Linked DNA regions of Homo sapiens: region 1 is linked to region 2. The links come from fine-mapping of genetic effects on gene expression. A gene starts in region 2. The other region holds a variant in brackets. All regions are shown on one strand. Distances are between the middles of the regions.

Evidence for each region.
Region 1: its variant is fine-mapped to the expression of SERPINF2 in whole blood (TOPMed, PIP 0.97).

The regions. Positions count from the first base shown.
Region 1 is chr17:1,695,378-1,705,996 of GRCh38, reverse strand. It overlaps TLCD2 (TLC domain containing 2), which reads left to right. Exons shown (of 4, transcript NM_001164407.2): 4 at 1-3,181. Among named protein-coding and RNA genes, the nearest start is that of TLCD2, 9.7 kb to the left of the region's middle. The variant GC/C (reference allele first, on the strand shown) is at 5,681.
Region 2 is chr17:1,737,908-1,748,526 of GRCh38, reverse strand. SERPINF2 (serpin family F member 2) reads right to left here and starts at 5,656. Exons shown (of 10, transcript NM_000934.4): 1 at 5,619-5,656; 2 at 3,469-3,535; 3 at 3,314-3,352; 4 at 3,132-3,194; 5 at 2,618-2,819; 6 at 1,365-1,508; 7 at 1,015-1,218. The coding sequence starts at 3,531. WDR81 (WD repeat domain 81) reads right to left here. Exons shown (of 10, transcript NM_001163809.2): 10 at 9,942-10,619.

The sequences.
Region 1 (10,619 bases), 43 kb after region 2:
TGTCTCTAAAGAAAAAAAAAAAAGGAAGAGCTGGGACTTTTCTGAGATACATTCATAAAGTCTTCTTCCTCCCTGCTGCTTCTGCTGCGTTTTTTTCTGTTGAACAAGACCCCTTCCTTCCCAGAACATCGAGGTGACGGGAAGTGCCCAGCAGATTAAGTCTGCTGTTCCACTAAACAATGGACTGAGAGAGGCAACCCTTAGCCATCCACAGAAAAGCTACATGAGCAAAAGCAAGAGACAGGAAGATTGTCTTCAAAAAAAAACAAAACAAAACAAAAACCTTGCTAAGAAGCGGAGGTACAGAAAGATACGAAGAATGACAGAGACAGACATACATAGATTGAGTGATAGATAGAAAGAGAGAAGGATTATTCACATAGAGGTGACAGAGGCAAAGAAGGATGGAGGGCAAAAGAGACAGGCCCTAGCAGAAATATGGAGAAAGGCTGTCATAGATCCTGAGAGACACCAAAGTCACAGAACTGATAAAAGGGTTATAAACAAAAAGGACCAGAAAAATAGAAATGAAGGCCGACAAGAAGAGACCCCAAGGCTGAAAGGCACAGAGAGTCTAGACAGTGAAATAGAGTGAGTGACAAGGAGAAACACCCAGGCTCAGGAGTGATGGAGGAAATACTGGCAGATAGAGAGATCAGAAGAGCAAGAGGAGAGGTGGGAACAGAGAAGAGCGGGGACGAGTCCGGGGAGCTGAGAAGCAGAAGGCGGAGGAGGCAGTCAGTGGGAAGATTCACTGACAGAAGAGACCAGGAGATATGGGGACTTGGAGGCAGGCAGAAAGACAAAGGACAAACAGCTGCAGCGCAAACCCTAAAGACAGGCTGACAGTAACCGGTCGGCAGAGACTGGTAGGAAGATAAGGACAAGTCAGAATCAGGGGTGTCAACTGAGATGCAAATATAGGCAAAGGAGCTGACAAAGAGAATCACAGAGAGAAAAAAAAGGAGGAGAGCACAGAACAATTTAAATATCCAGGCTGGGCATGGTGGGTCACGCCTGTAATCCCAGCATTTTGGGAGGCCGAGGCAGGCGGATCACGAGGTCAGGAGATGACCATCCTGGCTAACATGGTGAAACACCATCTCTACTAAAAATACAAAAAATTGGCCGGGCGTGGTGGCAGGCGCCCGTAATCCCGGCTACTGAGGAGGCTGAGGCAGGAGAATCGTTTGAACCTGGGAGGCCGAGGTTGTTATAATGAGCCGAGATAGTGCCACTGCAGTCCAGCAGGGGTGACAGAGTGAGACTCCGTCTCAAAAAAAAAAATTGAATATCCAAAGAACAAAGAAGAGGCAGGAACCCAGAAATGAAAAGAGGAGGAAAAATACAGGTGTGAAAAAAAAATGAGAGGGATTGTGAGAAGTCTCCATCATAGAGTCATAAAAACAGGCGCAAAGGATGAAAATACATCGAGACTGAGGAAAACACAGTTGGAAGGAGCTAAACACAAGCAGAAAATAAGAGCAGAGCATTTAAATGTAATTAGATAAAAACCCAAGAGGCAAAGGTATAGATAGTGAGCTAGAGAAACAATGCAGAATTTTGTCAGAGTCTGTACTTCTAGAAGTCATGTTTGCTGGCTGGGCATGGTGGCTCACGCCTGTAATCCCAGCACTTTGGGAGGCCGAGGTAGGAGGAGTGGTTGAGCTCAGGAGTTCAAGACCAGTCTGGGCAACATATTGAGACCTCCTCTCTACAAAAAAAAAAAATTTTCTTTTTTCTTTCTTTTCTTCTTTTTTTTTTTTTTTTTTTGAGACAGTTTCATTCTTGCTGCCCAGGCTGGAATGCAGTGGCACAATCTTGGCTCACTGCAACCTCCACCTCCTGGACTCAAGTGATTCTCCTGCCTCAGCCTCCCTAGTAGCTGGGATTACAGGTACCCACCACCACACTCGGCTAATTTTTGTGTTTTTAGTAGAGACAGGATTTCACCATATTGGCCAGGCTGGTCTCAAACTCCTGACCTCAGGTGATCCGCCCACCTTGGGCTCCCAAACTACTGGGATTATATGCGTGAGCCAACACACCCGGCCAAAAAAAAATTTTTAATTAAAAAAAAAAGTCATATCTGCAAAACTCAATTTGCCATCTTAACTGAATGCCTTGATTAACAAAAATGTTGTCTGCCTTGAGTTTTTAAAGAAAAAGAAATATGACAAACTCATGTGAGGAATCTATTCCTTAAATATCTGTTGAGGTTGATATGAATTGATTCTAAGTCATACACCTTTTCTTTGGCCACTGGTATACATTCATGATGGTTTGAGTGAGTGTCCCTTTTGGTAATACTTGATAGTGTCTATGAGGCCGGGCGTGGTGGCTCACGCCTGTAATCCCAGCACTTTGGGGGACCGAGGCAGGTGAAATCCCATCTCTACTAAAAATAAAAAAAATTAGCCGGGCGTGGTGGCGGGCGCCTGTAGTCCCAGCTACTCAGGAGGCTGAGGCAGGAGAATGGCATGAACCCGGGAGGCGGAGCTTGCAGTGAGCCAAGATCGTGCCACTGCACTCCAGCCTGGGTGACAGAGCAAGACTCCGTCTTAAAAAATAAATAAATAAATAAATAGACAGATAGATAGATAGATAGTGTCTATGAAGGCTGCCCAAGAACTTGACCATTAGGGAAACATGGCTGTTTCTGTGGATTAACTAGTCAAGCCCATACAGGAAGAGTGAGGTCAGCTCCCAGGTGGGGCAGGATGTAGTGGACGCTTGGAAGAATTTGGGACCACACACGAATTGCTACCATGGTGAGCCAGTGAAACTTGAGGAAGGCAGGACTGGATTGTGATTACAACTGAGTAAGTAGGCAGAGAATTGGAGTGTGGGCAACATAAAGATGATGTGAATCAAAGAAGAATGGTCAATTAAGACCCTAAAAAAAGGACGTTCAAAAATGCAGAGGTTAAAAAAAAAAAAAGCAGAGATTGCCAGATGCTCCATTTGGTAGGAGTCTGCTTAGCACAGTGGTGCTTCGCCAGACTTTACCGTGGCCCAGGGAAATGGTCCTCAAGACGGACTCCATGTCTACCAAGCTACTTGCTAATGATTTCTTTGTCCTCCAGGACAGGGAAGGGGCTTTTCTGGATGGGATACATTGATATTTTATGGCCTTGAAACACTATCCTGATTATAAATTAATAAATTGCTATGCAAATAATTGCATTAGTTGCATCAATCTCTTATGAGCGTGGTTACTTTGAGTTACTTTTTGGCTCCAATGGTGTCCTGATTTACAATTCGATGCTAGATTGTGGAGGCTTTGCCTTGGGAAAGTTTCCACCCTGACGTGTCCTGATACCCTCTATAATCAAAAAGCAACTCCTGGCTGGGTGCAGTGGCTCATGCCTGTAATCCCAGCACTTTGGGAGGCTGAGGCTGGTGGATCACTTGAGGTCAGGGGTTCGAGACCAGCCTGGCCAACATGGTGAACCCTCATCTCTACTAAAAGTATAAAAATTAGCTGGGCGTGGTGGCAGGCGCCTGTAACGCCAGCTACTCGGGAGGCTGAGGCAGGAGAATCATTTGAACTCAGGAGGTGGAGGTTACAGGGAGCTGAGATTGCACCACTGCACTCTAGCCTGGGAGACAGAGCAAGACTGTTTCGAAAAAATAAAAAAAGCAAATCCAGTGTCAGGCGAGTTGGTTGATTCCTGTAATTCCAGCACTTTGGGAGGCTGAGGCTTGGGCCCAGGCGTTCAACACTGGCCTGGGTAACATAGCAAAACCTCATCTTTTTTTTTTTTTTTTTTTTTCTGAGACAGAGTCTCACTCTGCCACCCAGGCTGGAGTGCAGTGGCTCAATCTCAGCTCGCTGCAGCCTCCACCTCCTGGGTTCATACGTTTCTCATGCCTCAGCCTCCCGAGTAGCTGGGACTACAGGCGTGCACCACCACACCTGGCTAATTTTTGTATTTTTAGTAGAGACGGGGTTTCACCATGTTGGCCAGGCTGGTCTCGAACTCCTGACCTCAAGTGATCCGCCCACCTTGGCCTCCCAAAATGCTGGGATTACAGGCGTGAGCCATCACACCCAGCCGGATTCAGAGTTTAGAATGATTTTCTTTTCTTTCTTTTTTTTTGTTTTTTTTGAGATGGAGTCTCGCTCTGTCACCCAGGCTAGAGTGCAGCGGCACGATCTCGGCTCACTGCAAGCTCCGCCTCCCGGGTTCATGCCATTCTCCTGCCTCAGCCTCCCCTCCGCCCGCCCCCCTCCCCCGCGAGTAGCTGGGACTACAGGTGCCCGCCACCACGCCCGGCTAATATTTTGTATTTTTACTAGAGACGGGGTTTCACCGTGTTAGCCAGCATGGTCTCGATCTCCTGACCTTGTGATCCGCCCACCTCGGCCTCCCAAAGTGCTGGGATTACAGGCGTGAGCCACCACGCCCTGCTAATTTTTATATTTTTAGTAGAGATGGGGTTTCACCAAGTTGGCCAGGCTGGTCTCGAACTCCTGACCTCAGGTGATCCACCTGCCTCACCTCCCAAAGTGCTGGGATTACAGGCGTGAGGCACTGCGCCGGGCCTGCAGAATGATTTTCAGTGCCAAGGGTTGAAACCAAAAGAATCTTGTAGCCAAATTAATCCTGAGTCAACAGAAAACTTCATAACTGAACTGTCAAAACTTTATCACATAAAATCTGGATTTTGTTGGGCTGAAAATTAGAAGTCCTCATTTTGCAAAAAACTATGTAAGGGAAGTTACTCTTTAGAGAGGAGCTCTTGTGTTGAAATGAATATTTATTTAGGAGCATCCTCGGCCGAACATTTGTCGTGCCCCTTCCCCATGTCAGGCACCTTTTATTTATTTATTTATTTATTTAATTTTATTTATTTATTTTTGAGACGGAGTTTTGCTCTTGCTGCCCAGGCTGGAGTGCAGTGGCGTGATCTCAGCTCACTGCAACCTCTGCCTTACGATTTCAAGAGATTCTCCTGCCTCAGCCTCCTGAGTAGCAGGGATTACAGGCGCCCGCCACCACGCCCAGCTAATTTTTTTGTATTTTTGGTAGAGACAGGGTTTCACCATGTTGGCCAGGCTGGTTTCAAACTCCTGACCTCGTGATCCGCCTGCCTTGGCCTCCCAAAGTGCTGAGATTACAGGCGTGAGCCACCGTGCCTGGCCATCAGGCACCTTTTACACATTATCCCATTTAATCTCACACAACAGAGCTTCACCTCATCTTTTGTTTTTATTTTTATTTTTTGAGACGGGGTCTCACCCTGTCACCCAGGCTGGAGTACAGTGGTGCAATCGTAGCTCACTGCAGCCTCCAACTCCTGGCTCCTGGGCTCAGGCGATCCTCCTGCCTTAGCCTCCTGAGTAGGTGGGATTACAGACATGCATCACTACACCCAGATACATTTTTTTTTTTTAAATAGAGACAGGGTTTCACCATGTTCCCCAGGCTGGTCTCAAATTGCTGGGCTCAAGCAATCCACCCATCTCAGCCTCCCAAAGTGGTAGGGTTACAGGCATGAGCCACTGCGCCCAGCCATTTTTTTTTAAATTGAGACAGGGTCTCACTCTGTCACCCAGGTTGGAGTGCAGTTGCACAAACATGGCTCACTGCAGCCTTGACCTCCTGGGCTCAAGCGATCCTCCCACCTCAGCCTCCTGAGTAGCTGGGACCACAGGTGTGTGCCACGATGCCTG[GC/C]TAATTTAAAAAATCTTTTTTTATTTTTCCAGAGATGGGGTCTTACCATGTTGCCCAGGCTGGTCTCCAACTCCCGGCCTCAAGCAATTCTCCTCCCTTGGCCTCTCAAAGCGCTGAGATTATAGGTGTGAGAGGGAGTCTCACCATGTTGCCCAGGCTGGTCTGGAATCCCTGGGCTCAAGTGATCCTCTTGCCTTGGCCTCCCAAAGTGCTGGGATACACGCATGAGTCACTGCACCTGTTCTCATTCCATCTTTCAGATGAAAAAACAAACAGGCTGGGGCATGGTGGCTCATGCCTGTAATCCCAGTACCTTGGGAGGCCGAGGCAGGCGGATCACTTGAGGCCAGGAGTTTGAGACCAGACTGGCCAACATGGTGAAATCCTGTCTTTACTAAAAATACAAAAATAACTAAGGTGAGGCCGGGCGCGGTAGCTCACGCCTGTAATCCCAGCACTTTGGGAGGCCGAGGCGGGCGGATCGCGAGGTCAGGAGATCAAGACCATCCTGGCTAACACAGCGAAACCCCATCTCTACTAAAAATACAAAAAAATTAGCCGGGCGTGTTGGTGGGCACCTGTGGTCCCAGCTGCAGCTGAGGCAGGGGAATGGCGTGAACCTGGGAGGCGGAACTTGCAGTGAGCTGAGATCGTGCCACTGCACTCCAGCCTGGACAACAGAGTGAGACTCCATCTCAAAAAAAAAAAAATTAGCTAGGTGTGGTGGCAGGTCCCTGTAGTCCCACCTACTTGGGAGGCTGAGGCAGGAGAATAGCTTGAACCCCAGAGGTGGAGGTTGCAGTGAGCCAAGATCGCGCCACTGCACTCCAGCCTGGGCAACAGAACAAGACTCCATCTCAAAAAAAAAAAAAGATTATCCAGTCTGTTCTTTTCATTTTGCAGAGAATTGAAGGAACTGAAGCCTAGAGAGGTTAAGTGACTTATCCAAGCATACTCAGCTAGTCTGTAGCACAGCCCGAATCAGAATCGAGGTCTTTGGTTTGGTTCAGGGCTCTTTCCTATACACTATTTTGCCTCTTTCTTTATAGAAAGGCCACAGAGTGGAGAAATTTCAAGGTAGAAAGGTAGGAGTCAGCTGACAACTAAACATCCATCAAGTCGGATAAATTGCCTCTGAAGTGATATATATAAGTCAGGGTGTTTCAGTTTGAAAGGCAGACTCTAGGCTGGGCACGGTGGCTCACGCCTGTAATCTCAGCACTTTGGGAGGCCGAGGCTGGCAGATCATGAGGTCAGGAGAGCGAGACCATCCTGGCTAACACAGTGAAACCCCGTCTCTAATAAAAATACAAAAAATTAGCCGGGCATGGTGGCGGGCGCCTGTAGTCCCAGCTACTCAGGAGGCTGAGGCAGGAGAATGGAGTGAACCCAGGAGGCGGAGCTTGCAGTGAGCCGAGATGGTGCCACTGCACTCCAGCCTGGGCGATAGAGCGAGACTCTGTCTCAAAAAAAAAAGGCAGACTCCTATGGTCAAGTATTGATTTCTGCACTTTTCAGGAATGCAGTAATTGTGGAGGGCAGAGGTTCATTTCAGCTTTCCTCTGTAGACATGAACATCACTTAGCTTGGTACTGTGGAACATATACTTTTTTTTTTTTTTGAGACGGAGTCTCACTCTGTTGCCCAGGCTGGAGTGCAGTGGCATAATCTCGGCTCTCTGCAACCTCCACCTCCCGGGTTCAAGTGATTCTCCTGCCTCAGCCTCCCGAGTAGCTGGGACTACAGGCACATGCCACCATGCCCAGCTAATTTTTTGTATTTTTAGTAGAGACGGGGTTTCTTTGTTTTTTGTTTTTGTTTTTGTTTTTGTTTTTTTGGAGATGGAGTCTGAAGCCCAGGCTGGAATGCAGTGGCGAGATCTTGGCCCACTGCAGGCTCTGCCTGCCAGGTTCCATTCTCCTGCCTCAACCTCCCGAGTATCTGGGACTCTAGGCGCCAGCCACCACACCCGGCTAATTTTTTGTATTTTTAGTAGAGACGGGGTTTCACTGTGTTAGCCAGGATGGTCTCGATCTCCTGACCTCGTGATCTGCCTGTCTCGGCCTCCAAAAGTGCTAGGATTACAGGCATGAGCCACCGCACCCAGCCGGAGATGGGGTTTCAGCATGTTAGCCAGGATAGTCTCCATCCTCTGACCTCATGATTCGCCCGACTTAGCCTCCCAAAGTGCTGGGATTACAGGCTCGAGCCACTGAGCCCGGCCGATAGTAAATAATTTCTTTGGCTGAGGCTTTGCCCCTCACTCTGGCCTGCCAGTCTGTGCCCTTAAGAGCACTCCCTCATCTCCTAAACCTTCACCGGTTGGCATTGCTAATCCTGGGGCTTGAGAGGCTGGCATGGCAACTCTCTCTGCCTCAGATCCCAGGTCAGGGCACTGCTAGAAGAGGATAGAGAAGCCTGCAGAACTGGAGGGCCACAAATTCCTGCTGCACTGACGCAGGCCAGCCCTGCTACCTAGCTATTCACTTGCTCTCCTTACGGCTTGTCCAAACATCGTTTTCTTCAAACTCCTCCCCTTCCTTCCCCAACCCCGACTGTGTGGAATCCAAATATTTCCACCTCAACAGCAAACAGGAGTGGGGTGCTGGGGAGATGGAGGAGATGGGGGAGGGAAACAGTCTAGGGCCACTGCAGCAGCATTTCCTTGAAATATGTTGAATCTAAAAATTCATATAAGTCCGGCTGCGGTGGCTCACGCCTATAATCCCAGCAGTTTGGGAGGCCAAGGCGGGAAGATGACTTGAGTCCAGAAATTTGAGACCAGCCTGGGCAATATAGTGAGAGCCCCATCTCTACAAATAATAAAAATATTAGCCAGGTGGTCAGGTGCGGTGGCTCATGCCTATAATCCCAGCACTTTTGGGAGGCCGAGATGGGTGGACTGCCTGAGCTCAGGAGTTTGAGACCAGCCTGGGCAACATGGTAAAACCTCGTCTCTACTAAAATACAAAAAATAAAATAAAATAAAATAAAATAAAATAAAATAAAATAAAATAAAATAAAATAAAATTAGCTGGGCGTGATGGCAGGCTCCTGTAGTCCCAGCTACTCGGGAGGCTGAGGCAGGAGAATTGCTTGAACCCAGGAGGCGGAGATTGCAGTGAGCCGAGATCGTGCCACTGCACTCCAGTCTGGCAGACAGAATGAGACTCCATCTCAAAAAAAAAAAAAAAAAAAGCCAGGCACAGTGGTACACATCTACAGTCCTAGCTACTCAGGAGGCTCAGGTGGGAGGTCACTCAGCCTCCTGGAGTTGGAGGCTACAGTAAGTCATGATTGTGTCCTGCACTCCAGCCTGGGCAACAGTGGAGTCTGGAGTCTGTCTGTAAAAAAAATTAAAAAGATAAAATAAAATACCATTTCAAATACAATTACAATACTTGTTTTTAAAAAAAATTTTACAAAATGACAAGTGAAACTGTCAATTTTTTTTTCTTTTTTTTTTTTTTTGAGACGGAGTCTCGCTCTGTCGCCCAGGCTGGAGGGCAGTGGTGCGATCTCGGCTCACTGCAAGCTCCGTCTCCCGGATTCACACCATTCTCCTGTCTCAGCCTCCCGAGTAGCTGGGACTACAGGCGCCTGCCACCACGCCCAGCTAATTTTTTGTACATTTAGTAGAGACGGGGTTTCACCATGTTAGCCAGGATGGTCTCGATCTCCTGACCTCGTGATCTACCCGCTTCGGCCTCCCAAAGTGCTGGGATTACAGGCGTGAGCCACCGTGCCTGGCCCCACGCCTGGCTAACTTTTTTTGTATTTTTAGTGGAGACGGGGTTTCACCGTGTTAACCAGAATGGTCTCGATCTCCTGACCTCATGATCTGCGCGCCTCGGCCTCCAAAAGTGCTGGGATTACAGGCGTGAACCACCGCGCCCGGCCCAATTTTATGATTTAAGGAAGATGTGCCAATTTACTCTGTGGCTCCAAGTATCACTGGGACAGTTCATTTTTCTTTATTCTCTGTCTTTTTTTTGTTTGTTTTTTTGAGATGGAGTTTTGCTCTTGTTGCCCAGGCTGGAGCACAATGGTGCGATCTTGGCTCACTACAACCTCTGCCTCCTGTGTTCAAGCGATTCTCCTGCCTCAGCCTCCCGAGTAGCTGGGATTACAGGCACCTGCCACCATGCCCGGCTGTTTTTTATATTTTTAGTACAGACTAGGTTTCACCATATTGGCCAGGCAGGTCTTGAACTGGTCTCAAGTGATCTGCCCGCCTTGGCCTCCTAAATTGCTGGGATTACAGGCGTGAGCTACCGCACCCAGACTTTATTCTCTTTTTTTTTTTTTTTTTTGAGACGGAGTTTCGCTCTTGTTGCCCAGGCTGGAGCGCAATGGCGCTATTTTGGCTCACGGCAACCTCCGCCTCCCAGGTTCAAGCAATTCTTCTGCCTCAGCCTTCCGAGTAGTTGGGATTACAGGCACCAGCCACCATGCCCGGCTAATTTTTTGTGTTTTTAGTAGAGACGGGGTTTCAGCATGGCCAGGCTGGTCTTGAACTTCTGACCTCAGGTGATGCGCCCACCTCGGTCTTCCAGAGTGCTGGGATTACAGGTGTGAGCCACCTCGCCCAGCTGACTTTATTCTCTTTATAACAAATATTTATAAAGGGCCTACGACATGCCAAGCACAAACTATGAGGTGTAATAGTGAGTCAATGAACCAGAGCCCTGGCATCAGAGAGCCTGCACTCAGGACTGTGTTAGAGAGTGAGGAACTGAGAAAGTAGGAGTCATTCGGCAGAGGGAAACCAGGGGTGACAGATACAGAAACAGGTCATCCTTGGCCGGGTGCGTTGGCTCACGCCTATAATCCTAGCACTTTGGGAGGCCGAGGCAGACGGATCACTTGAGGTCAGAGGTTCAAGACCAGCCTGGTCAACATGGGGAAACCCTGTCTCTACTAAAATTACAAAAATTA
Region 2 (10,619 bases):
ATGGGGACCAGCTTGGGCTCTGCACCCCCAGCCCGTTGCCTGTCCCACCCAGAATCCATTCAAGGATGAGACAGCGGTGGAGGCCAAGACCCCAGGGAATGCTAGCTGGCATCCAATTGATCTAAGGTCTCTTTCCCGTAGCATTTTTGAAATCTGGGCTTGTGTTTTCCCCAACCCCTGCAATTCTCCTAGGAACCTCCTCCTGGATCTTTTTTTTTTTTTTTAGACGGAGTCTCGCTCTGTCGCCCAGGCTGGAGTGCAGTGGCACGACCTCCGCTCACTGCAAGCTCCACCGCCTCCCGGGCTCACGCCATTCTCCTGCCTCAGCCTCCCGAGTAGCTGGGACTACAGGTGCCCGCCACTACGCCCAGCTAATTTTTTTGTATTTTTAGCAGAGACGGGGGTTTCACCGTGTTAGCCAGGATGGTCTCCATCTCCTGACCTCATGATCTGCCCGCCTCGGCCTCCCAAAGTGTTGGGATTACAGGCGTGAGCCACCGCGCCCAGCCCCTCCTGGATCTTTTCAGACCATTTGTTCCCAGGGTATTCACTCTAGAACAACTCATCTGGCTCCTGGGCACCCATCCCCACCACACCCAGACAGCCTCCTGCCTCATGGCCCAGACTGAGGAAGAAAGGAGACCCTCAGAACAAAGCCTGCATGGCCGGGCGCGGTGGCTCACGCCTGTAATCCCAGCACTTTGGGAGGCCGAGGTGGGTGGATCACCTGAGGTCAGGAGTTCAAGGCCAGCCTGGCCAACATGGTGAAACCCTGTCTCTACTAAAATACAAAAATTAGCTGGGTGTGGTGGCAGATGCCTGTAATCCCAGCTACTGGGGAGGCTGAGCCAGGAGAATCGCTTCAATCCGGGAGGCGGAGGTTGCAGGGAGCCGAGATCGCGCCACTGCGCTCCACCCTGGGTGACAGAGCGAGACTTGTCTCAAAAAACAAAAAGGCCTGCACGTCCCAGCTCAGCCTACAGGGTGGGGGATCTGAGAGGAGGAGGAGCGCACCCTGGAAGTGGATGGCGTTGAGGAGAAGCAACACGGTGTCTTCCGGCAGCCCAGAGAGGAATTCCTGAATCTTCCCCTCCGTGGCCTCCTTCACCCATTGGTTGATGTTTGCCAGGTCATCTTCCTGCTTTCCCGTCAGGCTCACGGGCTTTGCCCCAAATAGCTGTTCGGATTGTTCCAGGAAATCTTCTTTGATGGGAAATCCTGCACGGAGGCAGCACAAGCTGTTCCCAGGGCTCCAGGCTCCACAGCCAGACACGCCCCTACTCGCTACCAGAGGCCCAGCCCCTTGCTCTCACCCTCCTCCACCCAGGGCAGGACTGAGGGAGCTCCCTGCCATCAGCGCCTACCTTTCTGCAGGTACATCCTGGCAGCCAGTCGGAACGCGCCGGGGCCCAGGTCCTGGCAGAGGCGGCTCAGCAGATGGGGGAGGCAGGGCCCTGAGCCTGCGTGCAGCACCTGTTGCAGCCTCTGCAACGTGTGGTTCTGAGCACCTGGAGGGCACCGCACAGGCTGAGGCCCGGCTGCGGGTCCTTTCTCACCCCCACTGCCCACTCCAGTCCCTCCTGGATACCCGTGACGAGGACGTCCACGGGACCACACGCCATCCTTCCACAGCCACGGATCTGTTCTGCGTGGCTCTCACCCCTGTGGCTGACAGGCTGGGTGACCTCACCCCCCACAAGTTACCTTCCCTCTCTGGGCTTCCGTTTCCCACAGTGAGACCCTCCAGCACAGTGGGAAAGAGTGTAGCTAGCAAACTCTTGCATAAGAATCACCAGGAGGGGCCGGGCGCGGTGGCTCACGCCTGTAATCCCAGCACTTTGGGAGGCTGAGGCAGGTTGATCACCTTAGGTCGAGAGTTCGAGACCACCCTGGCCAACATGGTGAAACCCCGTCTCTACTAAAAATACAAAAATCAGCTGTGCATGGTGGCTGGTGCCTGTGATCCCAGCTATTTGGGAGGCTGAGGCAGGAGAATTGCTTGAACCTGGGAGACAGAGGTTGCAGTGAGCTGAGATCACACCACTGCACTCTAGCCTGGGTGACAGAGCAAGACTCTGTCTCAAAAAAAAAAAAAAAATCACCAGGAGGACTTGTAAATAAGCAGATTCCCCGGCCCAGTCCCTGAGATCTGATTCACATAGACAGATGGGTGGGGGCCCAGGAATCTGCATTTGTTGTTGTTGTTGTTTGAGACGGAATCTTGCTCTGTCACCCAGGCTGGAGTGCAGTGGCGCCATCTCGGCTCACTGTAACCTCCAACTCCCAGGTTCAAACAGTTCTCTGCCTCAGCCTCCTGAGTAGCTGGAATTACAGGTGCGCACCACCACGCACAGCTAAATTTTTTGTATTTTTAGTAGAGAGAGTTTCACCATGTTGGCCAGGCTGGTCTTGAACTCCTGACCTCGTGATCCACCCGCCTCAGCCTCCCAAAGTGTTGGGATTACAGGCGTGAGCCACCGCCCCGGCCTAGGAATCTGCATTTTTACCAAACAGCCACGTGACCCTGGTGGAGGAACCGCCCGCGGAGAACCATTGGAGTACTGAGTTCCTACTGGCCTCCCAGCTCTCTTGGTCTGGACAAGTGGTGCCAGGGTACCTAGTGCCAGGTGAGACAGCGCCAGGGCCACACTCAGGGGTGACAGGATGAGGTTGGGGCAGGTGGACGTTTGAGCCACCAGGGAGAACAGGTCGGCAGTGAAGGCCATCATGGCCCGGGCCAGCCTGTGGGTCTGCTCTGGGGTGGGGTCTCTGCTGCAGACTCCTGGGGGACTCTTCAGGGCAGTCTGGCCACCAGGCTCCTGCAGGGACAGATCAGGGGTCAGGGAGGTCAAGGGGTCAGCTCCAGGTTCTGTGTTGAAGGCCTTGTCACAGCCCCTGTGCCTGAGGACAGCAGGGCCTTGTCCCAGCCCCAGGGAAGAGGGAGCGTCAGACGGAGGGCACTGGCATTCTGGGGCCTGGCGCCCACCTTCGGTCCTCCCCACCCTCTCTCCCTTCTGGCCTCTGGACTCCAGAGCCTCAGCCTCAGCACGCGCCCCCACCCCCCGACCCCTGCCGATGGGCCCTCCTCCCTCTAGCCCCGCCCACTCTTCCCCAGCCCCACCTGGTTGTACCTGGTTGCCCAACTTGAGGAGGGTAAGTGGGGACACCTGCTCCTGGTTCGGCCCGCTAGTTAGCTGCGGAAAGGAGCAAGCAGATGGAGACCGACCCTTCCCACAGGCCCCCCACCCTGCCCAAGCCACCAGTGAGACCCCCGGGACCTTCCCCCCATCACAGGCTCCTCACTCCCCAGTACCTGCCGGCCCAAGGGCTCCATGGCGCTCACAGGGGAGAACTGTGGAGAAAGGGATGAGGATAGGAGGTCCCCTCGGAGCCAAGCCCTCCCTCCATGCCAACGCCCCTCTTCTTCCCCCTCCACCCCACCCCACCTTGACTTCAGCCCAGCCTCACCACGGAGCAGGGGCCTTGCAGGCAGGACCAGCTGAGCACCAGGAGCCCCCAGAGCAGCGCCATGTTCCTGTGGCAGGGACAGAAAGCTCTGTTCCCATCTCACATCCCCACGCCCGCCAGGGAATCCTACCCACGCGATCACAGATAACGCCAAGTCCTGGGTCATGATTGCCAAGGGGAAGAAGCAGGCTCCAGAATCAGAACAGACCCCAAACACACGAGCAGCGGCTCCCACTCCTGCAGCTGGGACATCCGCCCTGGCTTCTCCCCCTTTTTAGTTTCTGGTGTTTCATATTTCATGCATTTCATGCACTGAGGGTGTTTTGGTGAATAGGAGGGAGATACCAAATCAAAAACGTTCTCATTCTACAAGGCCCTGCGCTGTGAATCAGATCTGTGTCTGAATCCAGGCTACCTCTTGCCAAAGGACCTCGGCATTTCCCGTAACTCCACCAGGCTTGGCCTTACCTTGTAAAACGGTGGCACAAGTCCCTCACTCTTCTCACATGCATGGTGAGGACCAAAATAAGACCGTCTTTTTGGGATTTTTTGTTGTTTATTTTTTGAGACGGAGTTTCGCTCTCGTTGACCAGGCTGGAGTGCAGTGGCAGGATCTCGGCTCACCGCAACCTCCACCTCCCAGGTTCAAGCGATTCTCCTGCTTCAGCCTCCCGAATAGCTGGGATTACAGGCATGCACCACCACGCCTGGCTAATTCTGTATTTCTTAGTAGAAACGGGGTTTCTCTGTGTTAGTCAGGCTGGTCTTAAACTCCCGACCTCAGGTGATCCTCCTGCCTCGGCCTCCCAAAGTACTGGGATTACAGGCATGAGCCACTGCACCCGGCAAAAGACCATCTTTGTGGCCAGGCACGGTGGCTCAAGCCTGTAATCCCAGCACTTTGGGAGGCCAGGGGCAGGTGGATCACCTGAGGTCGGGAGTTCAAGACCAGCCTGGCCAACATGGTAAAACCCCATCTCTACTGAAAATACAAAATTAGCCAGGCGTGGTGGTGGGCCCCTGTAATCCCAGCTACTCGGGAGGCTGAGGCAGAGAACTGCTTGAACCCGGGAGGCGGAGGTTGCAGTGAGCCGAGATCACGCCACTGCACTCCAGCCTGGGCGACAGAGCAAGACTCTGTCTCAAAAAAATAAATAAGACCATCTTTGTAAACCCTGAGTACAATGCTTGGCACTCCCCCGATGGCTGGGGTCAGCTTGGCTCAAGGCCACCTCTTCTGGGAAGCCTGCCCTGAAGCCTCCACCGCAGAGCTCCAACACAGAGCTCCTACCCAGCCTGCTGCATCCATTTAGCCTGTCTTTTTTTTTTTTTTTTTTTTTTTTGAGATGGAGTTTCATTCTTATCATGCAGGCTGGAGTGCAATGGCACGATCTCGGCTCACTGCAACCTCCACCTCCTGGGTTAAAGCGATTCTCCTGCCTCAGCCTCCCGAGTAGCTGGGATTACAGGCATGTGCCACCATGCCTGGCTAATTTTGTATTTTTAGTAGAGACAGGGTTTCTCCATGTTGGTCAGGCTGGTCTCGAACTCCTGACCTCAGGTGATCCACCTGCCTCAGCCTCCCAAAGTGCTGGGATGACAGGCATGAGCCACCACGCCTGGCCCCAACCCGTCTTTCTCAGGCTGGTCAGGTCTTGCCCACAAGGCTGGACATACCTGTGAGGCCCTGAGGTCTCACCATGGGTGGCAAGGCAGCCAGAGAGCTGCCTTTTGACCCAGCAGCAGAGCCCAGTGAATGACTCTGGCCAGAGCCACCTCTGCACTTAGGAGCATCACAGGCCTCTGCTCCAGGCTGGCTCTGGGAAGGGCAGGTGTTGGTCTCAGGAGGATAAGTCAGAGCAGGTCTCAGCTACCTCCAGCCCACCCCCATCTTGGGGCCAACCCTTCTGGAGGATCCTTTGGTCCCCCCGGCCCCACCCCCATCCCACACAAGAGCCCTTGGCCAGGGCCCCGACTCCGACCTGGGCATTAGAATCTTCTTGCCAAGAACAGGCTCCAGTTTTTCAAGTCCCAGAAGAGGCTGGGGAGTGACAGGCCTCCTGAATAAATCCCAGACCCCTCAGCCAGGGAGGCAGCTCCCTCCTCCTCTCCTACCCAAGGAGCAGGCCGAGCAGCCCCTCCCCTCATACCTCTGCGGGCTCCTTGCTGCCACACACAACGTTCCTCTGGCCCCACTTGGGTGCTCCTCACTCTCTGCCCAGGCTCCAGCTGGCCCAGCCCACCCCTCCCCTCCCACCAGGACCTTTACTCTCAGCCAACCCCTGTTCAGATTGCTTTCTCTTCTGGTAAATATTGACTTGCACATCCAGTTAAACATTGATCTTGAAGCCAGAAGCCCCTTTCCCACCAGGGCATCTAACCCTGAGGCAGCCACGCAGAACCCCCTATATTTGGGTCCCCCCCCCCGAGCCTGGAAAGAGAAAGTTCAGGAGGAGAGAGTTGAAGAGACTGGATCTGGCTAGCCAAGAGGGCGGATCCAGAAAGCACAGGAACCTAGCACTGTGTTAAGCCTTCCAGAGACCCCACGAGGTGTGGATTATCCCTGGTTCAGCCAGGCTCAGAGAGGCCATGTGACCTGCCCAAGGACACAGAGCTGGGCTGAGGCACATCCAGATTCTCACTCCCAATGTCCTTTCTTCTCCCAGAGAGCTGCCTCCCGCTCCTGAGGGGAGGAAAGGGGAAGCCACAAGAGCCTATGCAGAGAGCCCAGGATAGGAAGCCCACCCCCAACCTTCCAAGCCCAGGATCAGGTTGGCTGCCTTCAGACTGGGATGGAAGGCAGGGGGTGAGGGAGGAGAAATGAGAGGGACTCAACTTCTCCCACCGTCCTGCCACTCCAGAGCAATGTCTCTTTCCCCTACCCAAGAGCGAGGGTTCTGGAAACTGACCTGGGGCTGTATGAACCAGAAGCCTGGCAGCCCGTGCAAAGATCAGGCTGCTTCCCACCCTCACTGTCCGGCTCCTCACTCCCTGCATCAGGCTCCTTCCCACCCTCACTGTCCTGCTCCTCACTCCCTGTATCAGGCCCCTTCCCACCCTCACTGTCCTGCTCCTCACTCCCTGCATCAGGCCGCTTCCCGCCCTCACACCTGCTCCTCACTCCCTGCATCAGGCTCCTTCCCACCCTCACTGTCCGGCTCCTCACTCCCTGCATCAGGCTCCTTCCCACCCTCACTGTCCGGCTCCTCACTCCCTGCATCAGGCTCCTTCCCACCCTCACTGTCCTGCGCCTCACTCCCTGCATCGGGCCACTTCCCACCCTCACTGTCCTGCTCCTCACTCCCTGCATCAGGCCGCCTCCCACCCTCACTGTCCGGCTCCTCACTCCCTGCATCAGGCCGCCTCCCACCCTCACTGTCCTGCTCCTCACTCCCTGCATCAGGCTCCTTCCCACCCTCACTGTCCTGCGCCTCACTCCCTGCATCAGGCCACTTCCCACCCTCACTGTCCTGCTCCTCACTCCCTGCATCAGGCTCCTTCCCATCCTCACTGTCCAGCTCCTCACTCCCTGCATCAGGCTCCTTCCCACCCTCACTGTCCGGCTCCTCACTCCCTGCATCAGGCTCCTTCCCACCTTCACTGTCCTGCTCCTCACTCCCTGCATCAGGCTCCTTCCCACCCTCACTGTCCTGCGCCTCACTCCCTGCATCAGGCTCCTTCCCACCCTCACTGTCTTGCGCCTCACTCCCTGCATCAGGCCCCTTCCCACCTTCACTGTCCTGCGCCTCACTCCCTGCATCAGGCTCCTTCCCACCCTCACTGTCCGGCTCCTCACTCCCTGCATCAGGCCCCTTCCCACCCTCACTGTCCTGCGCCTCACTCCCTGCATCAGGCCCCTTCCCACCCTCACTGTCCTGCGCCTCACTCCCTGCATCAGGCTCCTTCCCACCCTCAGTGTCCGGCTCCTCACTCCCTGCATCAGGCCCCTTCCCACCCTCACTGTCCTGCGCCTCACTCCCTGCATCAGGCCCCTTCCCACCCTCACTGTCCTGCGCCTCACTCCCTGCATCAGGCTCCTTCCCACCCTCACTGTCCGGCTCCTCACTCCCTGCATCAGGCCCCTTCCCACCCTCACTGTCCTGCGCCTCACTCCCTGCATCAGGCCCCTTCCCACCCTCACTGTCCTGCGCCTCACTCCCTGCATCAGGCCACTTCCCACCCTCACTGTCCTGCGCCTCACTCCCTGCATCAGGCCACTTCCCACCCTCACTGTCCTGCGCCTCACTCCCTGCATCAGGCTCCTTCCCACCCTCACTGTCCTGCGCCTCACTCCCTGCATCAGGCTCCTTCCCACCCTCACTGTCCTGCGCCTCACTCCCTGCATCAGGCCGCCTCCCACCCTGACTGTCCTGCTCCTCACTCCCTGCATCAGGCTCCTTCCCACCCTCACTGTCCTGCGCCTCACTCCCTGCATCAGGCCGCCTCCCACCCTCACTGTCCTGCGCCTCACTCCCTGCATCAGGCTCCTTCCCACCCTCACTGTCCGGCTCCTCACTCCCTGCATCAGGCTCCTTCCCACCCTCACTGTCCGGCTCCTCACTCCCTGCATCAGGCCGCCTCCCACCCTCACTGTCCTGCTCCTCACTCCCTGCATCAGGCTCCTTCCCACCCTCACTGTCCTGCGCCTCACTCCCTGCATCAGGCCCCTTCCCACCCTCACTGTCCTGCGCCTCACTCCCTGCATCAGGCTCCTTCCCACCCTCACTGTCCGGCTCCTCACTCCCTGCATCAGGCTCCTTCCCACCCTCACTGTCCTGCGCCTCACTCCCTGCATCAGGCCACTTCCCACCCTCACTGTCCTGTGCCTCACTCCCTGCATCAGGCTCCTTCCCACCCTCACTGTCCTGCGCCTCACTCCCTGCATCAGGCTCCTTCCCACCCTCACTGTCCTGCGCCTCACTCCCTGCATCAGGCCGCCTCCCACCCTCACTGTCCTGCTCCTCACTCCCTGCATCAGGCTCCTTCCCACCCTCACTGTCCTGCGCCTCACTCCCTGCATCAGGCCGCCTCCCACCCTCACTGTCCTGCGCCTCACTCCCTGCATCAGGCTCCTTCCCACCCTCACTGTCCGGCTCCTCACTCCCTGCATCAGGCCACCTCCCACCCTCACTGTCCTGCTCCTCACTCCCTGCATCAGGCTCCTTCCCACCCTCACTGTCCGGCTCCTCACTCCCTGCATCAGGCTCCTTCCCACCCTCACTGTCCTGCGCCTCACTCCCTGCATCAGGCCCCTTCCCACCCTCACTGTCCTGCGCCTCACTCCCTGCATCAGGCTCCTTCCCACCCTCACTGTCCTGCGCCTCACTCCCTGCATCAGGCCGCCTCCCACCCTCACTGTCCTGCGCCTCACTCCCTGCATCAGGCCACTTCCCACCCTCACTGTCCTGCTCCTCACTCCCTGCATCAGGCTCCTTCCCACCCTCACTGTCCTGCGCCTCACTCCCTGCATCAGGCTCCTTCCCACCCTCACTGTCCTGCGCCTCACTCCCTGCATCAGGCTCCTTCCCACCCTCACTGTCCTGCGCCTCACTCCCTGCATCAGGCCGCTTCCCGCCCTCACACCTGCTCCTCACTCCCTGCATCAGGCCACTTCCCACCCTCACTGTCCTGCTCCTCACTCCCTGCATCAGGCTCCTTCCCACCCTCACTGTCCGGCTCCTCACTCCCTGCATCAGGCTCCTTCCCACCCTCACTGTCCTGCTCCTCACTCCCTGCATCAGGCTCCTTCCCACCCTCACTGTCCTGCGCCTCACTCCCTGCATCAGGCTCCTTCCCACCCTCACTGTCCTGCGCCTCACTCCCTGCATCAGGCCGCCTCCCACCCTCACTGTCCGGCTCCTCACTCCCTGCATCAGGCTCCTTCCCACCCTCACTGTCCTGCGCCTCACTCCCTGCATCAGGCTCCTTCCCACCCTCACTGTCCTGCGCCTCACTCCCTGCATCAGGCTCCTTCCCACCCTCACTGTCCTGCGCCTCACTCCCTGCATCAGGCTCCTTCCCACCCTCACTGTCCTGCGCCTCACTCCCTGCATCAGGCTCCTTCCCACCCTCACTGTCCTGCGCCTCACTCCCTGCATCAGGCTCCTTCCCACCCTCACTGTCCTGCGCCTCACTCCCTGCATCAGGCTCCTTCCCACCCTCACTGTCCTGCGCCTCACTCCCTGCATCAGGCCGCCTCCTACCCTCACTGTCCTGCTCCTCACTCCCTCCATCAGGCCCCTTCCCACCCTCACTGTCCTGGAAACTGCTGGGTCTCGACTTTCCCCACCCTGACACCACCAGCAAGATAAGCCTCAGGCTGGGCGTGGTGGCTCATGCCTGTAATCCCAACACTTTGGGAGGCCGAGGCAGGAGGATCGCTTGAGCCCAGGAGTTGGAGACCAGCTTGGGCAACATAGTCAGACTCCATCTCTATTGAAAAAAAAAAAAAAGACAAGCCTCAGTTCACCCCATGGCTCTTCCAAAGGATTTATTGGTCCTATTTACATCTATTGCAAATTGTGAGAAGGCAGCAGGGGCCAACCCCTGGACCTCATCTCTGTCTAGAATGTGAGGTCGCAGGGATGCTTAAGTCTTCCTCTGGCAGAGACCCGAGGTGCAGAGATGATTCTTCTCACCCCTTCTCTCAGGGTCGTGGAGCCCCAGCAGGGGTTCAGGGCCCAGAGGCTGCCCCCTCAGCTGAAGGCACAAACACTGTGGTAGGGGTGGGCAGACAACGCATGGACTCACTCCTGGCAGGCGCCACTGGCCAAGTGCACCTTTTCCCCCTGCTCCTAGCCTCCTTCTTCCTTCCCGTCCCGGTCCCACACTGGCCAGGGCCTGGATGGGTGGCCACTTAAACCCCAGACCCAAGCCCTTAACTCCTGGACCACGGCCAGCCTTCCTTAGGCTGGAATCCAAGCACCATCAGTGCCCTGGACCAGGCCAGCTTCCCTGTCCTAGAGGGATGGGACAGAGAGTGCCCAGCGGGGGCTGAGGGGCTAGAGACCGGCTGGGCAGGGCCAGTCTCCCTTCCCCTTCCCGAGCTTCCCTGTCCTCATGTGGACCCAGAGGGCAGAGCTGGGGAGAAGTGAAGGTAGCAACGCTTCCTCCTGCTCTTAACTTCCTGCTTGCTAGGAGCCCTGTGTCCC